Regions from separate parts of the Homo sapiens genome. Here all the other regions are linked to region 2. Evidence: fine-mapped QTL for protein levels in blood plasma. A gene starts in region 2. Each other region holds a variant in brackets. All regions are shown on one strand. Distances are between the middles of the regions. Region 1 overlaps QPCT (glutaminyl-peptide cyclotransferase). Region 2 holds the start of QPCT (glutaminyl-peptide cyclotransferase). Region 3 overlaps QPCT (glutaminyl-peptide cyclotransferase).

What was found. PIP is the posterior inclusion probability: the model's chance that the variant is causal. The UK Biobank Pharma Proteomics Project read protein levels with antibody pairs (Olink). The fine-mapping took linkage between variants from a reference panel, not from the people measured, so its PIPs are less certain.
Region 1: its variant is fine-mapped to the plasma level of the QPCT protein (UK Biobank, PIP above 0.99). The variant lies in the coding sequence of QPCT. If it changes the protein, the assay may bind it differently, which can mimic a change of level.
Region 3: its variant is fine-mapped to the plasma level of the QPCT protein (UK Biobank, PIP above 0.99). The variant lies in the coding sequence of QPCT. If it changes the protein, the assay may bind it differently, which can mimic a change of level.

The regions. Positions count from the first base shown.
Region 1 is chr2:37,361,472-37,368,444 of GRCh38, reverse strand. QPCT (glutaminyl-peptide cyclotransferase) reads right to left here. Exons shown (of 7, transcript NM_012413.4): 4 at 1,037-1,213. Among named protein-coding and RNA genes, the nearest start is that of QPCT, 20 kb to the right of the region's middle. The variant C/G (reference allele first, on the strand shown) is at 1,090.
Region 2 is chr2:37,338,690-37,345,751 of GRCh38, reverse strand. QPCT (glutaminyl-peptide cyclotransferase) reads right to left here and starts at 1,122. Exons shown (of 7, transcript NM_012413.4): 1 at 901-1,122. The coding sequence starts at 1,020. LOC124907754 (a long non-coding RNA gene) reads left to right here and starts at 697. Exons shown (of 2, transcript XR_007086284.1): 1 at 697-2,025; 2 at 5,025-6,336. RefSeq lists a silencer at 692-751.
Region 3 is chr2:37,369,646-37,375,919 of GRCh38, reverse strand. QPCT (glutaminyl-peptide cyclotransferase) reads right to left here. Exons shown (of 7, transcript NM_012413.4): 5 at 6,136-6,235; 6 at 3,448-3,564; 7 at 2,598-3,238. The coding sequence ends at 3,093. LOC107985868 (a long non-coding RNA gene) reads left to right here. Exons shown (of 3, transcript XR_001739403.3): 3 at 1-648. Among named protein-coding and RNA genes, the nearest start is that of QPCT, 28 kb to the right of the region's middle. The variant T/G (reference allele first, on the strand shown) is at 3,100.

The DNA of each region.
Region 1 (6,973 bases), 23 kb before region 2:
GCACCGGGGCTAGTGAAGTCTCAAGGGTAGCATGAGGTTCCAAGCTGGGGTTAGTGAAGACGTGGGGACAGAAAGAAGATCAAATATGGGAAGAGAGTCAGAGTCAGGAGAAGATGCAGGGGTCGGGGGAGGGATTAGGGATGGAGTGTGGGCCCAGGAATGGGGATGAAAATGAGGCTGTGTGTTGCACTCATTACTTAGTAATAATAGCAGGGTTTTAAGGCAGCATCAAAATATCCCCACCCCCATGTCAAAAATGCCACATCAAAACCAACACATCAAACTGTCATAGTCACACTGGAGTCACGGTAATACTTTGAAGCCACCAAGGAAATTCTTCACCCTCACCCCTCTTTTATTCCATTTCCCAAAGCCCCATGTTCTTCAGACTTATAAAGGCCTGAAAGAAGGGGTTTGCTCTCTCCACCTCCATACAGTACTGGGGGAATGTGCTCCCATTGGGCCCAACTGAATCTGAAGTTCCTGTAATCCAATTTTTTACATGATTTTATCATTTTAATTAAGCTCAGTCAAACATGGCTTCTAACCAGCAATTTTTCTTTCTTTCTTTCTTTTTTAACAGAGTCTCCCTCTGTCACCCAGGCTGGAGTGCAATGGAGCAATCATAGCTCACGGCAGCCTCGAACTCCTGGGCTCAAACAATCCTCCTGCCTTAGCCTCTTGAGTAGCTAAGATTACAGGCATACACAACACCCAGCTAATTATTTTATTTGTTGTAGAGACGAAGTCCCCTTATGTTGCCCAGTCTGGTCTCGAACTCCTGGGCTCAAGTGATCCTCCCACCTCAACCTCCCAAAATGCTGGGATTACAGGTATGAGCCACAGAGCCAGCTCAGAATCATTCTTTTTAGCTCTGGGATTCCTCAAAAACCCAATGCCTGCCAAGGAATGTTCTATCATAAACACTGTGCTCCAAGGATGCTGTGGCATTTTTAGGTCTTTACTTGGCTTTTGCAACCTTTTCCTTGGAAGCGGAGCCTACAGCTACAGTGCTAGGGAAATTGCCCAGACTAACCATGCCATGCAGTTGGCTGGTGCCTCTCGCTCCAGGTGGGTGCGGGGTCGATG[C/G]CATCTTTGCAGCTAAGTGTCGAGACCCATAGAGAGAATCTTGAGGAGACCAGTGAAGAAAAGCCTCTTCACCATCAAAGAAGATCAGCTGGAGTGACAAATCTGGCTTGGAGTCTGAAACAGTCTGGTAAAAACAACAATAAAAACATAGCAAAAAAATACTGTGATGATGAAAAATAGCATGATTTTCTATTAATTGGGCAAAAAGATAGATGTGCCATAAAGAAAGGAAGATACCAAAGCAAGTGAAACTATGGCAAAATTTATTCCACACCACTTCCTCTTCAAAAGTCATCACACCTCCCACAGTCTTCACCCATATAAACCACCTTCTTCCATTCCCTCTGAAAATAGAAGTCTTTTATATTTTTTCTTACTCCTCACAGAATTTTGAAACAATGAAAGTGCTGTGATGAATCGTGTGATACACCACCCACTTCCCATACAGGAGGGTGTGTTGCCTCAGCTGCTGGAAGAGCCGTCAGTCACTTTAGGAATTGCCTCAGCTGCACCTCCTGGGAGTGTCCCACATCCAGTGCTGACCTACACGGGTACGGGGGGCTCTCTAAAGAGCCATCATATCTCCAGAGCTCCGCAGGGGTTGGCTGAGGCCGTTGTTGAACCTGCACTGCAGCTCGACTTCTTCCTCCGTCCAACACCATTTCTTTCCCCTCCCTGATACCTGTGTTGATCCAAGGCCACTCCCTAATAAGTGACCTGAATACTAAACTCCATGTCAGAGGGCGCTTCTTGGGGAATCCAACCTGAAACAACTGTAAATCTTTCTTGCTTCTCACCTTATTTACATCTTCAATTTTGTACTGAGTCTAGCTTCAAGAGTCTGCCCTAGGAATGCTACAGACACGAAGAATAATAATTATAGCCCTTCCCTTGAAATAGCCTATACTTTAGTTGGGTTGGGGAGAGATAAAACAAATACATAAGCATGGCAAAATGTGCCACCAGCCACAAATGTAACATTAAAGTCCTCTAGAAATTGGATAGAATGAGAAGCAAAATCCTGGGGGTGTCAAGGAGGGCTTTATGAAAAAGACAGTATTTGAATGGAACTAAAAAGAGTGACTAGGATTCTAACTGATTTTACACTTTCCTCCGTCTGACAATAACCCCTGTCTTTCAGATTGGTCCTGGTACTCTAAACTCCAAAGTCCTTCAATCCCACTGGAACCCCTAATCTACTGAATGTTTCACCTTTTCATGGTCCTTCACCCCCATAATGTCCTCACTTCACTCTATATTTGGCTTAAATTCCAGTCAATCATGCCAATCACTCACTAGCATACACCCTCAACTCCCTTGCCCCTTTCTGCCTTTGTCAAACTTTCATGGCAAAAACATACTCTACCTACTTTGTGCCAGCACTCGTGCAGCTAAACCTCACCAGAGAAAAAAATATATAACCACACTGTCTGGCCTTGCTTAAAGTTCATGACCACAAACCTCACATTGGCCTTTCATGTTGACTGGCAAGTCATTTGTATTTTCTTAGTTCAGTCACTCTGGCACTCTTCTAGGATTTCACATTCCTCCTCTCCCTGCCACCTCACCCATCTTCATTCCCAACCGATGACCTTGATTTCTTTCTGTCATGCTCATATCAGATGCCAGTCTCCCTGCTTATGCACAAAATCCTATCCTCTCTCATCTGCTCAAGGACATTGCTCTAGCAAATACCATTTCTCTCCTACATCATCAATTTTTCTATCTCTGCTGGATAATTCCCATCGGCCAACAAACATGCTGTTGCTTTTCTCATCTTAAAATATTTGACCTCACTATCTCCACCATCTACTGCCCAATTTTGTAATCCCATTTATAGCAAAACCCCTTGAAGGAGTTGTCTATTCACGCTGTCTCCAATCCCACTTCTTAAACTTAGCCCAGTTGGGTTTTATCTCCACCGTGTACTGAAACTGCTCTTGTCAAGACACCAATGACTCTACATGGCTACATCCAGTGGTCAACTCTCAGTCTTCATCTCTCTTGACTTATTGTCAGCATTCAACACAGTTAATTACTCCCTCCTGGCTACACTTGCTTCATTTGGTTCCTAAGATACCATATTCCTCCTACCTTAGCACTAATGGCTCCCTTCATCTCCCTTCCCTCTTCACACTAGAGAGCCTCAGGGGCTTGCTCCATGGTTCTCTTCTCTTCTCTGTCCACACTCACTCACTGTCTTGATATCTCTTCTTGAGGCTTTAAATCATATATGTGTGGGTATGTGTGTGTTGTCTTGTGTGTGTGTGTGTGTGTGCTGTGTTGTGTGTGTATTGTTATATATATAAAATTTTTAATATAATTATTTTAAAATAATAATAATAATAATAATATTGTAGAGGCGGAGCCTTAGTATGTTGCCCAGGCTGGTCTCTCTATATATACATATTATATGTTATATTATATTGTATTATATTATAATAATACACACACACAACACAACACACACATACATGTAAATATCAATTCCAAAAAATATATCTCCAGCCCTGACTTCACTGCCGATCTCCAGACTACAATTTCAGTTGCCAAATGAAGATCTCCACATAGACGTTAATAGACACCTCGAACAAAGTGTCAAAACTCATCTCCTGAGGTTCCCCCGGAAATCTGTATTACCAACAGTCTCTTCAACCAAATGGATGGCAAAACCCCCCTTGCAGTTACTCAGACCAAAAACCAGTGGGGATCTGTCTCTTTCTGTCCTTTTCCATGTACACAAACATCGCAATCCAGTTCGTCCTGCCTCTGCAAACCTGTTTCCCACCATTCCTCACCACAGGCCTCTCTTTCATTTGCTTTGTTTTCTTTGAGCCTAATATGTCTTCACCATTATGTGGTCAAGCGTTCCAGACACTATCACACCTTTATTTCTCATGTCTGTCTGGTTTTGTTTTTTAAGAATGGGCCCTTCCGGAGCCCTCTGCTGCCTGCTCCAGCCTGGACCGACCACTAGGCCTGCTGCCTATCTGTTTGTTATCTTGGGGCTCCCCTCACCATCAACCTGCAGATTTCTGCCTCTCCTATATGGGACCCCCAGTGAGCTGAACTCCATGACTCCCTCATCCTTGATTTCTTTCTTGATTTTTCTGGAGCACAGCTTTAAGCAACTTCTAGGGCAAAAATACAGTACATGGGAGTGAAAATTGTTGAGATTTACCTCTGAAAATGTCTTCATTCTATTTTCCTATTTAATTTTTCTGGGTCTGAAGATTCTGGGTTGCAAATTATTTTTATTTAAAATATTTAAGGCATAATTTCATTGTTTTCTAGCTCCCAAAGTTTCTATTGAGAAGTCCAGTGCCATTCTCATTCCCAATACTTTTTATATGACCTAACTGGAATTGTTACAATTATTCTCCAAAAGTCATAATCGTCTCCTTTTTGTCATTCCTCTTCTAAAAAAAGATACTTCTTCTACTTTAGGATCCAACTGTTTTATTGATTTATTTATTTTGAAAATAGAAATTTTAATTTCCAAAAGCTCCTCCTTATTGACCAATTGTTCTGTTATTGCAGCATTCTGGTTTTGTTTCATAGATATAATGTCTCCTCTTATCTCTGTAAGAATATTAGAACAGTGTCCTTTAAGTCATTTTCTGCTCTATTTCCTCCCACTTCATTTTAAATTTGTATGATTTGTTTTGCTTTCTATTTTTTTTTTTTTTTTTTTTTACATTTTAAAAAAGTATTTATTTATTTAAGAGACAGGGTCTCACTCTGTTGCCCAGGCTGGAGTGCAGTGGCTCAATTATAGTGCATTGCAGCCTTGAACTCCTGGGCTCAAGCAATCCTCCTGCCTCAGCCTCCCAAGTAGCTAGGATTACAGGTGTGTACCACCATAACCAGCTAATTTTTTTTTTTTTTTTTTTTTTGTAGAGAGGGAGCCTCACTATGTTGCCCAGGCTGGTCTCAAACTCTTGGCCTCAAGCAATCCTCCCACCTCGGCCTCCCAAAGTGCTAGGATTACAGACATGAGCCACTGCTCCAGGCCCTTTCTTTCATGCTGGAGTCTGTCCTCAAATGTCTGGTCATCCTTTGTGTTCATTCATGTTAAAGAATAAGATATTAAAATGCTGGTTGGAGACACAGATTGGTTGGCTTCACTGCAAGGCAATCTGGTGCCCAGCCAGTGTTTTCACTGAGGATTACTGAATGTCACCATCTGGGATTTTTCTGCGGGGTGGTTCACACGGTCTGAAGAAGAATCCTCCAGTTTCCTATCTGATGGCTTTCTGGTGCTGAAGATGGGAGAGAAACTATAGATCTCACTGTTCAATGTGTAGGCTTTCGCCTAATCTCCCCGATTTCCATGGGGTGCCCCACTGTCACCCTCCTGTATACTTGCTATTCTCAATTCCATAACCTCCCTGGTTCAATTTCTCCAGAAAAATATTTTCTCATCTGTGGCAAAGGCACAAGGGGGCACTCACTTACCTGCCTGGTGTGGGGTGGGAATCTCTACATCCACATATTCCTTAGACAGACTTAGAAACACTCTCCACACCAGCCCCTTCCTCACCTCTGCCTTCCTCAGCTTATCACATCTCTAATTCCTGAGCCTTTTTAGGATTCTATCAAGGAAACCACTGGCTTCTTCCATTTCTTCCCTCTCCAGGACAGTGTGACTTCTCTCCACTCTGATATGTCATCTGCCATTTCTCCATCCAACTTCTGTCTTCATATTGTGGTTCCTATTCACAGATGTTCTCTACTTTCTTCAAAAAATGGAGTTTCCCTGATTGTTTTAACGGTGATTTCAAAAGAGAAAAAAATTGTCTTTATCATCTGAAAACTAACTTAATTTTGTACGCTAATCATTTCATATTGCTCCTTAATTATACCATGAGGAAAGGACAGTGTAATTTGATTTGAATCCTCCATAACTCCTGGAGAGCATTAAGCAGAGGATGTGTTTGTGCAATATAAATGCACTCAGGGTTTAATAAGCATTAAATAATTAAACAGATTTTCTCGTTGGCAAAAATTGTAAGGTGCTTGCTTCAGTAGAGACATTCTAAGCTTCCAGTTGTTTAAAGGGCCTTGAAAGTTCTAGCTTCAAATCAGACAACATAATCGCAGAACAAGAGGGCAGAACGGGACCGGTTGGGACAAGAGGCATTCTGCTCATGCCCAGGGCATAGGCAAACGGAAATAGTTTTTATCTCTTGCAGGCTTGACAGTTCAAGTACCTCAGTGAAACTTCAACAGCTGGGAGACTCCAATGATCAGTACAACGATTTGCTTTCATTCTGTTCGCCTAATATCCATTCATTTAGCCAGCAATAAACTGTTGTGGACATTCATCCTGAGTCCCATGAGGCAACCTGCTCTTTTTGCTTCATTTCAGGAATGGCAGAAAAATAGCCATGGCCTTCGTTACTAGTAACTCAGCCTAGTACCTTGGAGCTAGGAGAATCTGACTGGCCTGATGTATGAAGGTCTTCATGGTAACACTACAAATGCCTAATTACCAGCGTTCACACAGTCTGGGTTATCTGCAGTCCTTCCCCATTCAAGGCTGTATCAGTTAGCTAATGTTGCAATAATAGAATAGAATAACACCCCATCAACACAGTGGCTTAAAATACCATTATGTATCTTCTTGGGATACATAACCTCTGCTGGTCAGCTAGGGAGCAGCTGATCTAGAATGGGTTTGGCTGGGGCAGCTCTGCTTCACTGTGCAGTCAGCAAGGTTGGTTCTGCTCCAGGTGTCTCATCCTTCTGCTGGGACTGGCAGGCTAGCCAGGGCATGCCATTCTCATGGTTATGGCAAAGACACGGAAGAGCAAGCCCAATGGCACAAGCACACTTCCAGCCCCTGTTTGTGTCACCTCTACTAACATCCCATTGGCTAAGG
Region 2 (7,062 bases):
CCATTCTCCTGCCTCAGCCTCCCGAGTAGCTGGGATTACAGGTGCGTGCCACCACGCCCGGCTGATTTTTTGTATTTTTTAGTAGAGACAGGGTTTCACCATGTTAGCCCTGATGGTCTCGATCTCCTGACCTCGTGATCCACCCGCCTCGGCCTCCCAAAGTGCTGGGATTACAGGCGTGAGCCACCCCGCCCGGCCGAACCCATACACTTCTTACAGAGGGAACTTGCAAATCACTTTTATCCTAAGTTCCTTATATGCGATTTCTACCTACAACTAGATCCATTTTCTCTGAAAATAGCAGGTACCCTCTTTTAAGTGGAGGAAAAAGGCTTTTGAAGTAAGCAGGTCTCCAGTAAAGGTCCTTCCTGCCGAGTTGCTCCTTTTAAAAATCTAAAACAAACAACACACATCCGTCCTGAGACTGTAGGGACACTTCAGCGCCCCAGCAGCATCCTTGGATGAAGCAGCGGGGGGGCTGTGGGCACACCCCCAGGCGCACCCCGCACCCTAGCGGCCCCGGAGCGCCGGCCCCGTTGCCCTCCAGGGTCCCGAGTGGGGGGTGGCGCCGCGATGCGCCCTCGCCTCCCGGCTCAGCAGCCGCCGGCGAGACACATTTCCTGTGCCTATCAGCACCCCCATCAGACCGCAGCCCAGGAGAGGCCAGTGACATCACCCAGCCCCCCTGGCGTCTCCAGAACAGCCCCGGACTGGCCGAGGCACCCCGGCGAGTATGCAGAGCCCCGACTCCTCCGGGCGCCGGGTGGGGCGCCGGTGCCTGGGCTGGGGACCGTGGCCCTGCCCCGCCTCCCGCTCTGCCTAGGTAGGGCTGACCCGGCCAGGGGTCCTCGCATCGGACCAGAGCCGCTCAAGTACAACTACGCAGAAACAGCCCCTCACCTTCTCCTCTGGCCAGGCTGAGGCACTCGGACTGACCCCCCTGGATGCCCAGGGCAGGGCGGCCACCAGCAGCAGCAGGTGGAGGGTGCCCACGACGCGCCGGTGTCTTCCGCCTGCCATCTCTCCGAGTCTGTCTGGGAGCGGGTTCCCCGGGCCGCTGGCGGTCACGAGCCCGGGAACGCGCGTCCTTCGCCTTCCCTCTTCTCCACCCTTGGGTCGACTGCGCCCGCCTTCCCATCGCCCCCGGGTAGCCTCCCGCCGCGTCGCGCAGGCTGCAGCCCTCCTACCCCGGACCTTCGCAAACCCCGGGGCTGGGCGGCCCTGGGTGACAGACACAAGCTTCTGAACCCAAGCTAACAAAGGCGGCCACTTCCTTCTCTTGGAGAAGATGAAAGGAAGGAAGCAAGAGACATGGAAGAGCCTTTTTATGATCTCCAATGCCAAAACAGGGAACAGAAAAGGGAGGAAGGGTTCACCAGACCCTGGGGAGTTATGAAGTGTTTCCCACAGCTCCTAAAGAAGGGGTGGACAGGGAATCGACGTCTGCTGAACACGGCACCAGGCACCGTCCTAGGTGCTTGTCCAACCTTCCCGGATTTAATCCACTAATCCCATTTTACAGACGGGGAGACTGAGACACCCCCCCACCCCCCATAGAAAGCCTGGACTGGAACCCACAAGCAAAAGTATGACAGTGGATCTTTGCCTTTTCTCTTTTTTCTCACAAATAGTTGCCTTGCCTCACATCATACTCTCAAATTGAAAAGGATGGTCAAAGTAATTATCTGAAATAATGAGATCTACAATATTCACAGCGGCTCTGAAGGAGTCATCTTCTCCAAGGCATGGCCCCAAAAGGAAAAGCCAAACACAATTCTATTTACTTTGTAACATCAAAGGTCATTGTTATCCAGATAATCCTAGGGCAGGAAAACATTTCAGTTTTGTCTGTAGGTTTCTGGTCCAAGTTGTCAGGACAGTGACTTTCACCAGCCTCTTTTGCTTCCACAGTGAGGATCAGGGCTTGGCCTGCTCTGAGTCATCTCCCAGTAACATCTAGTTCCCAGAAAAATCAGAACAAGGATACTGAAGCAGAACCATTTCACAGAGAGCAAAGATTTGAAGGTAAGGAAGCTGCCAGAAGGCCCACCCACTCACTCTGTCTTCCCAGCCTTGGCTATGAGTTTTTAAAGAGAGGGCTTGCCTGGAAATACACTGTTCTGCCCTCCTCTGGAGCTGTAGGAGAAGACAGGATGTAAATAACTCCTTTCCTGGTGTACAGATTTGCTAACCCTATTCATGTCTGAGAGTTTTGAGTGACAATTTAAATCTCCAGGCTTAAATAAAATTAAATACACCTTTATTAAACCCACAGACAGTTCTGATCATCGGACCCCCTTCAGAACTTTCTACTGGCTCCAGTTTCAGAACTAAACCACTGTCACATTCCCCAATACAGCTCCTCTCTTGCTGCCTGGGTCAACCTTGAAATAGTGCATTTCCTGAGTGGCTGGGTAATAAAGAGCCTATTTGCTTTTTTTTACCCTATTACCTTTATGTCTTTTCACAATATGGTTCCTATAAGAAAGAGAACGTGGAAATAGCAAACCTAAATGAAACAAAATGTGAGAGGTACTATCATGCTAAGTATGAGCAATTCAAAACAAGAAATATAGAAATAAGCTAAAATGTCAGCACATAACGTAATGATGATTTTGTTTCCTAAGTTTCTCCAATTTTGGTTATATTTAAGTCAATAAGATGTTCTTACAGTTTGGTATCTACAGGAAGCAGACTCTGAGACAAGAGTTTAACATGCAGGATGTGTATTAGGGAGTGCCCTTGGGACAAACCCCTGTGGGAGGAAGAAGGGGAACAGGAGAGAACAGAGGGAGAAGTTAGCAGCAAAGCGGGCCCAACAACCTCACCCAACTCCATGGGAGTCCTGAAGCTGAAAAAGACGGTCAAAGTTGTCCCATACTGGGCCAAAATGTCTGGGGCCTTATCTCTGCACCTCCATGGAGTGATTTCCTGCAAGCGGCTTTCCAGCCAAAAGAGCTTGACTGCTAGAGGCTGTGGGCCAGCCGGCCTCCAACAGCTGGAGCAGGGTCCTTCCCTGGGGGCAGATCTGGGCAGCGCATCTCCTGTATCCACCACAAACGTATTGTATCTGGTACAAATCTAAAACATTCCACATAGCTAGTGAGACTGATTTCAATACATTGGTTTTTTTTTTACATGTAAGCTTTTCTGCCAACTTTCCAAGAATCTACAAATCCAACACCACTATGTATGTATCACTTCATTCCTTATGCATATCTTTTCTAGTGTCTTACACACTAAATACCCTTTTCCTTTCCTTCGCTCATTCTTTTCTCTCTTCCTTCATTTGGGAAACGTTTAGAAATACCTTATATCTGCTATTTTTGCCCTACTTCAACTTTTCCTTTCTTCAAACTCTTCCCATGGAAGATAACTAATGACTTTTCCATTTTAATTAAAGTTTCAGACCCTGTTTTTCATCATGGAAAAAATGTGTTGTATATACAGTGATAACACTGTTCTCAAGTGGAGAAATTTTTACCTCCATTATAGTATAGATTCCATACTGTGATGTGAAGGAAATGAAGGACCCAATTGCCAAAACAGATCTTCTCCATGAAGCTGCCATGGCAGGATGTTCCTACACCCAGTCCCACCTTTAAAGTGGCGCCATTAGATCAAAGTAGTAATGACCAGAAGGTTCTATTAAAACAATAGTTTTCAAAAGTGTGGTCCATGGATACTGGGGATTCCCCAAGACCCTCTTGGCTGTCTCCAAAGTCAAATCAACTTTTATAATAATACCAAAACAAGATTCATTTTTTCTACTGTATAGACTTTGCACTGATGTTGCAAAAGCAATGATGGGTAAAAATGCTGGCACCTTAGCAACTGTCAATACAGGACACAAAACTGTACTATTGAGGAGGAAAATCTATACTTGTAGTCATTGTGTTTTTCTTTCTTTCTTTCTTTTTGGAAGGAGTTTCACTCTTATTTCCCAGGCTAGAGTGCCATGGTGCCATCTCGGCTCACTACAACCTCTGCCTCCCAGGTTCAAGCGATTCTCCTATCTCAGCCTCCTGAGGAGATGGGATTACAGGCATGCACCACCATACCCTGCTAATTTTTGTATTTTTAGTAGAGACAGGGTTTCACCATGTTGGTCAGACTGGTCTCGAACTCCTGACCTCAGGTGATCTACCTGCCTCGGCCTCCCAAAGTGCTGGGATTGCAGACGTAAGCCACCATACCCAGCCATCTTAGTATTTTTCACTGCCACGCATAAAGAAAAAAAAAAAGAAGAGGACGATAAAAGAAAAGAAAAAGAGCCAGTTTCACTTAAGAATGTCATTGATGAAGTAATAAAATTGTTGTTTTACTGCCTTCTGAAGCTGTCTCTCCATGAAGCTAGATTTTAAATCTAGCAGGACAGAGTACAGGAGGAGAGAGAGCTCCTCACGTCTGCGTTTTCATCTCATGGAGACCACCAGCTCTGTGTGGACTCCTCCTACCTGCACTGCATCCTGGAAACTCTCAAAGCAGTAAGCTGGAGAAAACATCAGGCTCATCTCATTTCATTTTCCCTTTTCTCACCACTTTCCTGTGATACCTCTTTTCCAATATTTAAGCATCATTTTAAAAATTTTTATACACTTAGAGAGTACAGGAGCAGTTTTGGTACATGGATATACTGCATAGTGGACAAGTCTGGGCTTTTAGTGTAAGCATCACCTGAAAACATAGTATACATTTACCCATCAGGTAATTTCTCATCCCTCCTACCCTCCCACCCTTCCAAGTCTCCAATGTCTATTATTCAGCTCTTCATGTCATTGTGTACACATTATTTAGCTTCCACTTATAAGTGAGAACATGTGCTAGTTGAGCTGTTTCACTAAAGATAATGGCCTCCAGTTCCATCCATGTTGTTACAAAAGACAAAATTTTGTTATTTTTAATTGCTGGTAGTATTCCAGGGTGTGTGTGTGTGTGTGCGTGTGTGTGTGTGTGTGTGTGTGTGTGTGTGTGACGTTTTCTTTATCCAATCCATTGTGAATGTCATTTTTAATATATTTTAGGTGGGATGACAAATCCAGTTCCATCTTAACTGGAAGCACAAATTGAGAGTATGCAGCTCTTTATACTCACATGGGAAAATAAGACGTAGAAATCAAACACTTCTGCTGCACACCAAAGGGCAATTGTCTCAAAGAAAAGCATTTGTACCGTTGTTTCAGAAGTATAGTGGGCCGCAGTGGCTCACATCTGTAATCCCAACATTTTGGGAGGACAAAGCAGGTGGATCACTTGAGGTTAGGAGTTCAAGACCAGCCTGGCCAACAGGATAAAACCCCCATCTCTACTAAAAATACAAAAATTAGCTGGGAATGGTGGCAGGTGCCTGTAGTCACAGCTACTCCAGAGACTGAGGAAGGAGAATCACTTGAACCTGGGAAACAGAGTTTGCAGTGAGCAGAGATCACACCACTGCACTCCAGCCTGTGTGACAGAGAGAGACAGTCTCAAAAAAAGAAAAAGAGAGAGAGAGAGAAGCATAGTGAACTTGCTACTTTTTTCATGAAATTCCAATTTAATTGAAAGAACAATGACTGATAAATTATGATTATTCAGACTTGGATATTTGGCAGACATTTGAAGATGAATAAAGTGCGCCTATCCCTTGAAGGAAAATAACTGACACTGTTTGTTGCCAGTGATAAAACTGGATCTTTGCAGTAAAAATTGGAATTTTGGATAACTTGTATCTGCTACCATAAGCTTGATAGTTTCCTGATATGCAACAACTTTTATGACAAAATTGGTGATTTTAACAAATGTGATTATTTATTATATATAATGAAATGCTCAACATTTGGAATATCTGCATAACTCAGTGAAGCAATATTTTCCAAATGTTCAATTCATCATGTTACAAAGTCACAAAGAAAAGTTCCACTCAAAGTATAAGAGACACCCAGTGGATTTTAATGTAATGGAATAAAAACATGTATTTAGAAGCAGATTTTAAGTTGTACCTTTTATGACACTATCATTTGTTATGTTTTGATTTAATAATGAAGGAGATTATCCACAGTTATCTGAAGAGGCTATTAAAATACTCTTCCTTTTTCCTACTACATGTCCGTGTGGGGTCAAATTTTCTTCATGTACTTCAGCCAAAATAATATATCACAACAGGTGGAATGCATAAGCAAATATGGGAATCCAGTTGTCATCTAAAAAGTCAGAAATTAAAGAGATTTTTTTAAATGCCAATCTTCTCACTAAACTCTTTTTACTTTGGAAAATGTATTTTTTCATAAAACATGTGTCTTTAGATGCAATGACTTTATTCTTTTAAAATAAATCCATAATTAAGTATTTGTAAAATGCCTGTTCTAATTTTCAATACAATAAATATTGATAGACATGGTCCACATAAATGAAAGCTATTTGTGGTCCTCAATTACTGTTACTAATGCAAGGAGTTCTGAGACCAAAACATTAGAGAATCACTATGTTAAAACCATTCTACTTGAGAGAGACAGATGATAATACATTAAACCAATGCTTACAACTGTAGCTACACATGGAAATTATCTAGAAAGCCTTTTTTAGAAAATGGTGATGTCTGACTTCCACCCCCAGAGATTCTGATATGATTAGCCTGGTGTGTGGTCTGGGCGTCAGATCGCTTAAAAGCTCCCCAGGTGATTCTAACGTGCAGCCACGGCTGAGAATCATTGCATGAAGTCACACACTTTGAGAAATACATCAGCAAAAATCATATAATCAGATTAACTATAACATTAATAGTCATGTTGCATTGTAGTTATTTCATAAGGCCCTGAGGATAATAGCAAAAAAGATTGGGAAAGTGGCCCAGCCTTAGACAAATTATGAAGTAGGCAGCTTAAATTCAAACCCCCCAACTTTCTGGCCCCATGCAAGTCTAGTACTGAAGCACCCTGCCTTTTGTTCCTTTAATAGTCACAGAATGTAAAGAGTCCTACATTATATTCTTGTTTGAATCTGTCCGCCACCTCTTTCGATAGCAGAGTGAAAAATTAAAATATTTGCCTCTGCAGTCCAGTGTCAGATTTTTAGTGTTCCTTA
Region 3 (6,274 bases), 31 kb before region 2:
ACAATAACAGGCTCATGATTTTTTTAGATGCCAAGGTTATGAATACTCTTTTATGAATATTTTCCTTTGAACTCATTTCTCTTGAAGAAGAAAAATAGCCCTACATATTGCAGGATTGACAATAACAGACAAAACGTACAAATTGTTCTCTTAGGGGCAGTAAAATGCTCCAAAATGCACATAGAAAAATTCCAAATGCAACCTGATGTTTATGGAGCACTGCCTTTGCAGCTATAATTTTTAGAAAGTAATATTTCTGACTGACATGAATTATACAGAGCATATTTCAGAGACTAATATCAGGTTAATGCCTTAAAATGTCTCCGTTTATGACATCATGGCTGCTTTTCCTATATCAGTGCAAACTCTTAGTGAGTAGAATTTGAGGATATGTCTTTTCAAAGGAAGAAAACCTTCACTGAATTAAGCTGCTTATGGTTTTATTTTTTCTTTTATCCCATTTCAACATATCCACCAACCTCCTCTAAAAATAATTCAACTAATGTGAACTCAACAGATTATAGTAGATCTCTTATTAATTTCATTTTGCCTCCAAAGGAGCTTATCATTTAGGCTTATAATTATGTATGCAGTACTGTCGACTAATGTTTAGGTTCCTCATTAAAACTTCATTTCATTCTGTTTTAATATCATCAGTCTGTTAGACCATTTATTTTCTCATGTTAAAAAATATGTGTTTTCCCTGAACTCTTTCCATATGTTTTCTCTCATCCAAAAAATCCAGAAAACTCAGCTCCCTTTAATCCTGCTTTGTGGCTTAGATACTTTAGCCTGGAACCACTCGTGTTGATTTGTATATACCCACACTTACGCAAAAATAGCCTTCACTACGGCAGAGTAATCATTCTGCATAGAAATTATGTGTCTCTGAAGCCTATGTTGTCAGGTGAATCGTGGCAGCAATGACCTAAGAATGCATCCCCAGTTTGAAATGACCTATAAAAATTTCAAGATACAACTATTGCTTTGCATTTGGCATCGGGAATATTCTGTATAGTTCTTTTCATGTAAATGGGCAATATTCTAGAATGGTTCCCAAGTATAAGCTTTAGAGCTAGACTTCTTGGGTACAACTCCCACTATTACCACTTACTAGTTATGTAATATTGGAAAATACACTTAACTACTCTGAGCATCATAAAGTAAGCTTACTAACACCTACCTCACACAATTGTTGTGGGGATTAAGTTAGTAAAACATATAAAGCATATGTGACTCTGTCTGGCACAGAGTTAGCACTCAGTCTAAGTGTTAGCTCTTAATATCATTAATTCACAAACACACGACTTTCATTTACATGACTTTGGAAGGACATTTAGAAAATAAAAAAGAATCCTAGAAAAATCTAATTCTGTAAAATTTACCAACATGAAATTATAGACAGGTAATGTTATATATAAGTATATATAAATGTAATATATATTTATCTATAAATGTTATATATAGCATAGAAAATACCTAAGTATACATATATAATTCTGGCTATATTCTATATAATTTACATAGTCAAATTGATGAAATTATTTTTATCCTTTTCTTACCTGAAAACTATGTTTTAGCAAGTAAATTACTTTCCCAATGACTTCCATTGTCATTCGGCACATTAATTCACTGAGTATTTACTAAATGTCTTGTCCGAACAGGGAACACACAGAAGACAGTGGCCCCAACTAACTTCATCTGTATGCCAGGAACGATTTCCTAATTATTTAATTGATCAAGTTTGTATTTCTAGATAATTGTTTCCTATAGCTAAAGACAACTTATGAATGCCTATGTATTTCCAGAAAAAAATGCTCTAAGTAACTAACCGAACGAATACCATATAATCTATCTACACAAAAATTGTCACAACTACTGCAGTACTACTGTGTTACCTTAATGTTGACTCTAGAGTTCACATTCAGCAGTCTTTTTCTGTCCTCACCTCAATCCAAAACCAAAACAGCAAATATATGCCTGGTAATCACATAGTTTAACAGGAAAAAACAGGCCAAAAAATTGTAATACAGTTTGATTATACCTTTATAAGAAAAATCTGCATTTAAGAAATGTGAGGAGGCTGGATGCAGTGGCTCGTGCCTATAATCCCAGCACTTTGGGAGGCCAAGACAGGAACAATGCTTGAGCCCAGGAGTTCAAGACCAGCTTGGGCAAAATGGAGAAACCACATCCATACAAAAATACCAAAAAAATTAGCCAGGCAAAAAAATTAGCTAGGTAGTGCATGCCTGTAGTCCCAATCACTCGTAGGGTGGAGGTGAGAGGATCGCTTGAGCCGAGGAGGTCAAGACTGCAGTGAGCCATGATCATGCCACTGCACTCCAGCCTGAGCAACAGAGTGAGACCCTGTCTCAAAAAAAAAAAGAAAAAGTGAGGAAAAACTAAAAAGCGAACTAATGGTGATTCTGTTAATATAATGGGATTATAGTTTTCTTCTTTTCTCCATTTTCCAAAATGTTTGTTATTGACTATTATTTTTACAATGAGAACGTTAAATTTGCAAAATCCTATAAAAATTGGACTATGCATTAAATTATATCACTATTTTTATATATAAAAAAGACATCACAACATAGCATTTAATTCTGATTTTAATTTCCATAAAATTAACTCTACAAAGATTTCTCAAAGAAATCTGACCGCCTTCAAACTACATGTTTGTTTTGTATTACATGTAATAGATTTCCACATATGAAAAAATCATAAAATGAAGGCTACGTTTTCCAACCGCTATTTAAGTACTGTTGAGAAACTATCGTTGAATGAATGAACCTGATTTTGCCTCATCGTGTTTATCTAAAAGAGTCTTTGAAAGATATTTATTTTCCATTTTCTTTACACGGTCCCTCTTTTTCAATCTGTAAATAAAAATTAATGAGCAATTTAGGACACAATATCACAACACAATTATTCTGTAATTGATCTGATAACCAAAGACACATAAGAATAGGATGATCTATAGGATAGATGTTTCCACACAGCATTTGTCTGAAATCAGATTATTTTAAATGATGCCTTGACTTTTGAATTCAATTCTAGAACCAATTATCCTAAACTAAATCAGAGTATTACAAA[T/G]GAAGATATTCCAACACAAAGACTTGTAGGATTTTGTTTAGATTGTCAATGGTTGATTCATCCAAATTTTCTTCATTGTCATCCATGGTGTGCCAGACTTCAGGGAAAGGAGACGGTATCAGATGCAGAACTGGAACACCTATTAAGAAAGAACCAACTTGTAACAATGTGCATTACTCCAGTGAGTAAACTAGAAAGGGTCATTCTTCAAGCAGAGGGAGCTCTGTACCACATAAAGACAGCTGATAATTCATCATCATCTGTGTACTTTCTCATATCCCACCGTTGTACTCCAAAATCAGGCTGTGCACGCACACACACACAAACACACACACACACACACATTACCTCTTCTTAAAAATGGAATATGGTCATCCTGAATCACACCTCCATAACTGTAATTCTGGAAATACCGCCCCTCCAAAGAGTGATCCTTGAGCAAACCCAATTCATGAAGTTCATGTTCTGTAGATGACAATTATACAGTAAATGAACAACTATTTTTATCTTATCAAGACTCATAATGTATCCTTATTTAAGGAGTTTGAAATCTTAGCACATGTGTCCATAATTTGTAAAAGATTATGCAACAGCAAGCATGGCCACACCCATGACAATAAACATCTGGGTTGAACAGGGATGTGTACACTTTGGAGCAGGAAGAGAGAAGAGTCAAATGTGGCTCTAAACTTACAGGTGAGAACCTCCTTAGAGGTAGAAACTCCACAGAACAGTGAAGAGATAGAGAATGAAAAAAACAGAGGACAGGTGGGTGGAAGGGGACAACACAGGTGCAGGTGTAGATGCTTATAGGTCCAAGATGCTGCATGAAGAATGCCTTAGATGAGATATGGGGCTTAAAAGGGGAATACTCAAACAGAGTAGAGATGAAGTATATCAAGTGGCCACTCTATGGGAAAGAGATACCTAGTGTGACCTACATCAGTGGTTCTCAAAGTGTGATGTCTGACCAGCAACATCAGCAACACCTAGGAACGTGTCAGAAATGCAAATTATCTGGTCCCATCTCAGACTTACAGAAATTCTGGGGCTGGAGTCCAGCAATCTGTGTGGAAGAAGCCCTCCAGGTGATTCTGATGCACTTTAAAGTTTGAGAACCACTGGCCTACATAAGTCATGTATTGTATGTTACAAGATGACAAGAGATTACATGAATATTATAAGACAACCAAATGAAACTTCCTAGGATAGCTAGGAACTAGCTAAGGTAAAACTAAACCAACTAGTAATCAATCATATGTAATATGATTCTAGAAACATTGAGAAAGCCCTAACTACCACCAAAAACAATATTCTTGTCTGTTTATTGATACTTATAATTCCTTTACCATGAGACACAACTTTTTCTTTTTTTTTTTTTTTTTTTTTGAGATGGAGTCTCGCTGTCGCCCAGGCTGGAGTGCAGTGGCGCCACCTCAGCTCACTGCTTTCTCTTATACAACTAGAGATATGGTTTGAAATGTAAATACCAATAGGAGGGGCACAATGGGTTAAAATTGAATGAAGGTGCAAGTTATTGGCATAAGTTCATTCTGGTACAGGACATAATAAAAGTGCACAAAATCCTTGAAAGAAAGCCAAACTCAGTTTCTCAAGGCTACCATCAAAGTAAGGAAAATATGCTGCAAGGAAGAAGCCCAAGAAGTTTATATTAATAACACCATTAGAGTAACTCTTTCAAACTAGGAAATGAAATTTGTCAATGACATGCACCTAAAGTTCAAGCAGAAGTTTCTCTAAGATTCTAGACAAATTCTTTACTCATGGCAAAAGTGTGAGTTATGATGGCAGTGTTTTTCCCACTGTTAGAAGTAATACAAGTCTATCTTGCTCCAAGAAGTTTGTGTGGCTAGTAAGGAATTTCTAGCATGAAATTCTTGCCTTCAAAGCAGCCCCCTGGCCTGGATTCTACAATAAAGATCAATCTCATTTTCATCTTTCCCTGATGCCTGCCAAGAGTTTGCTTTGTTTTGTTTTGTTTTGTTTTGGGTAGGGTGGTAGTACAAAGTTATTCTCCTTTTCTTTCTCCAAGCCCCAAGCTCCCCTCTTCAGCCATAGATACGTATGTTTCTTGGGCTGGCCTGACCTGACCTGGTCTGGCCTAGTCAACTCCCATTTATTTGACTCTAAATCTCAAAGGATCTGGCTTTCTCTTTATCCTGATCTCTTGCTTCTTTGGAAAATTGGCAGAGACTGTACTAGATTTAAAGGAAAATAATATCTGGATAAGGTAGAAAATAGAAGATGGCAAAGACAGAGATGGAAAAGAAAAACTGAAGAATATCTTTTGGTATCATTATAAGGACATCATATTCATCATTAGCCAGCATGCTTTGTTGAGTAAACTTTTCTCTCGAAACGCATTCTACCTGCTTCAAACAGGACTCTGGGAAAATATTTTCAAATATTTTCAAACCATTTTTAAGGATGTGCAAACATGAAATGTAGTATTTTATGTTTCCATTTCAAAATATAGTTTCATGCAGGAAAATAAACTGGGCTTACTACAAAGATGAAAAGAATAATAAACTAATCAATTAAGCAAGAAAAAAAGCCAATAAAGTATATTACACATTTAAATCATATACTTAAATTATAATTTTTTTTTCTTTTTTGAGATGGCGCCTCACCCTGTCACCCAGGCTGGAGTGCAATGGCACCATCTTGGCTCACTGCAACTTCTGCTTCCCAGGTTCAAGTGATTCTCATGCCTCAGCCTATCAAGTAGCTGGGATTACAGGTGCCCGCCACCACACCCAGCTAATTTTTGTATTTATTTTGTATTTGTTTAGTGAAACCCCGTCTCTACTAAACATGAAAGCCCTGTTTCATGTTGGCCAGGCTGGTCTCAAACTCCTGACCCTAGCTGATCTGCCTGCCTTGGCCTCCCAAAGTGCTAGGATTACAGGTGTGAGCCACTGCGCCCAGCCAAATTATAAATTTTAAATGTTAAAAATGTAGTATCTGTCAGTAGCAAGAAATGATGTTTTATTCATTAATAACAGTGGTGCTTACCAATTGCTTGAAGTCTTTCGAACCACCTGGCTGAGTTTGGAAAAAAATTGGGAAACGTTGGGTTTGGAGCTCCAATCAAATCCAATAAGACCAATAAATCCTGAGGGAGAAAAAGTAATGTTTAATCACCATCACCAAA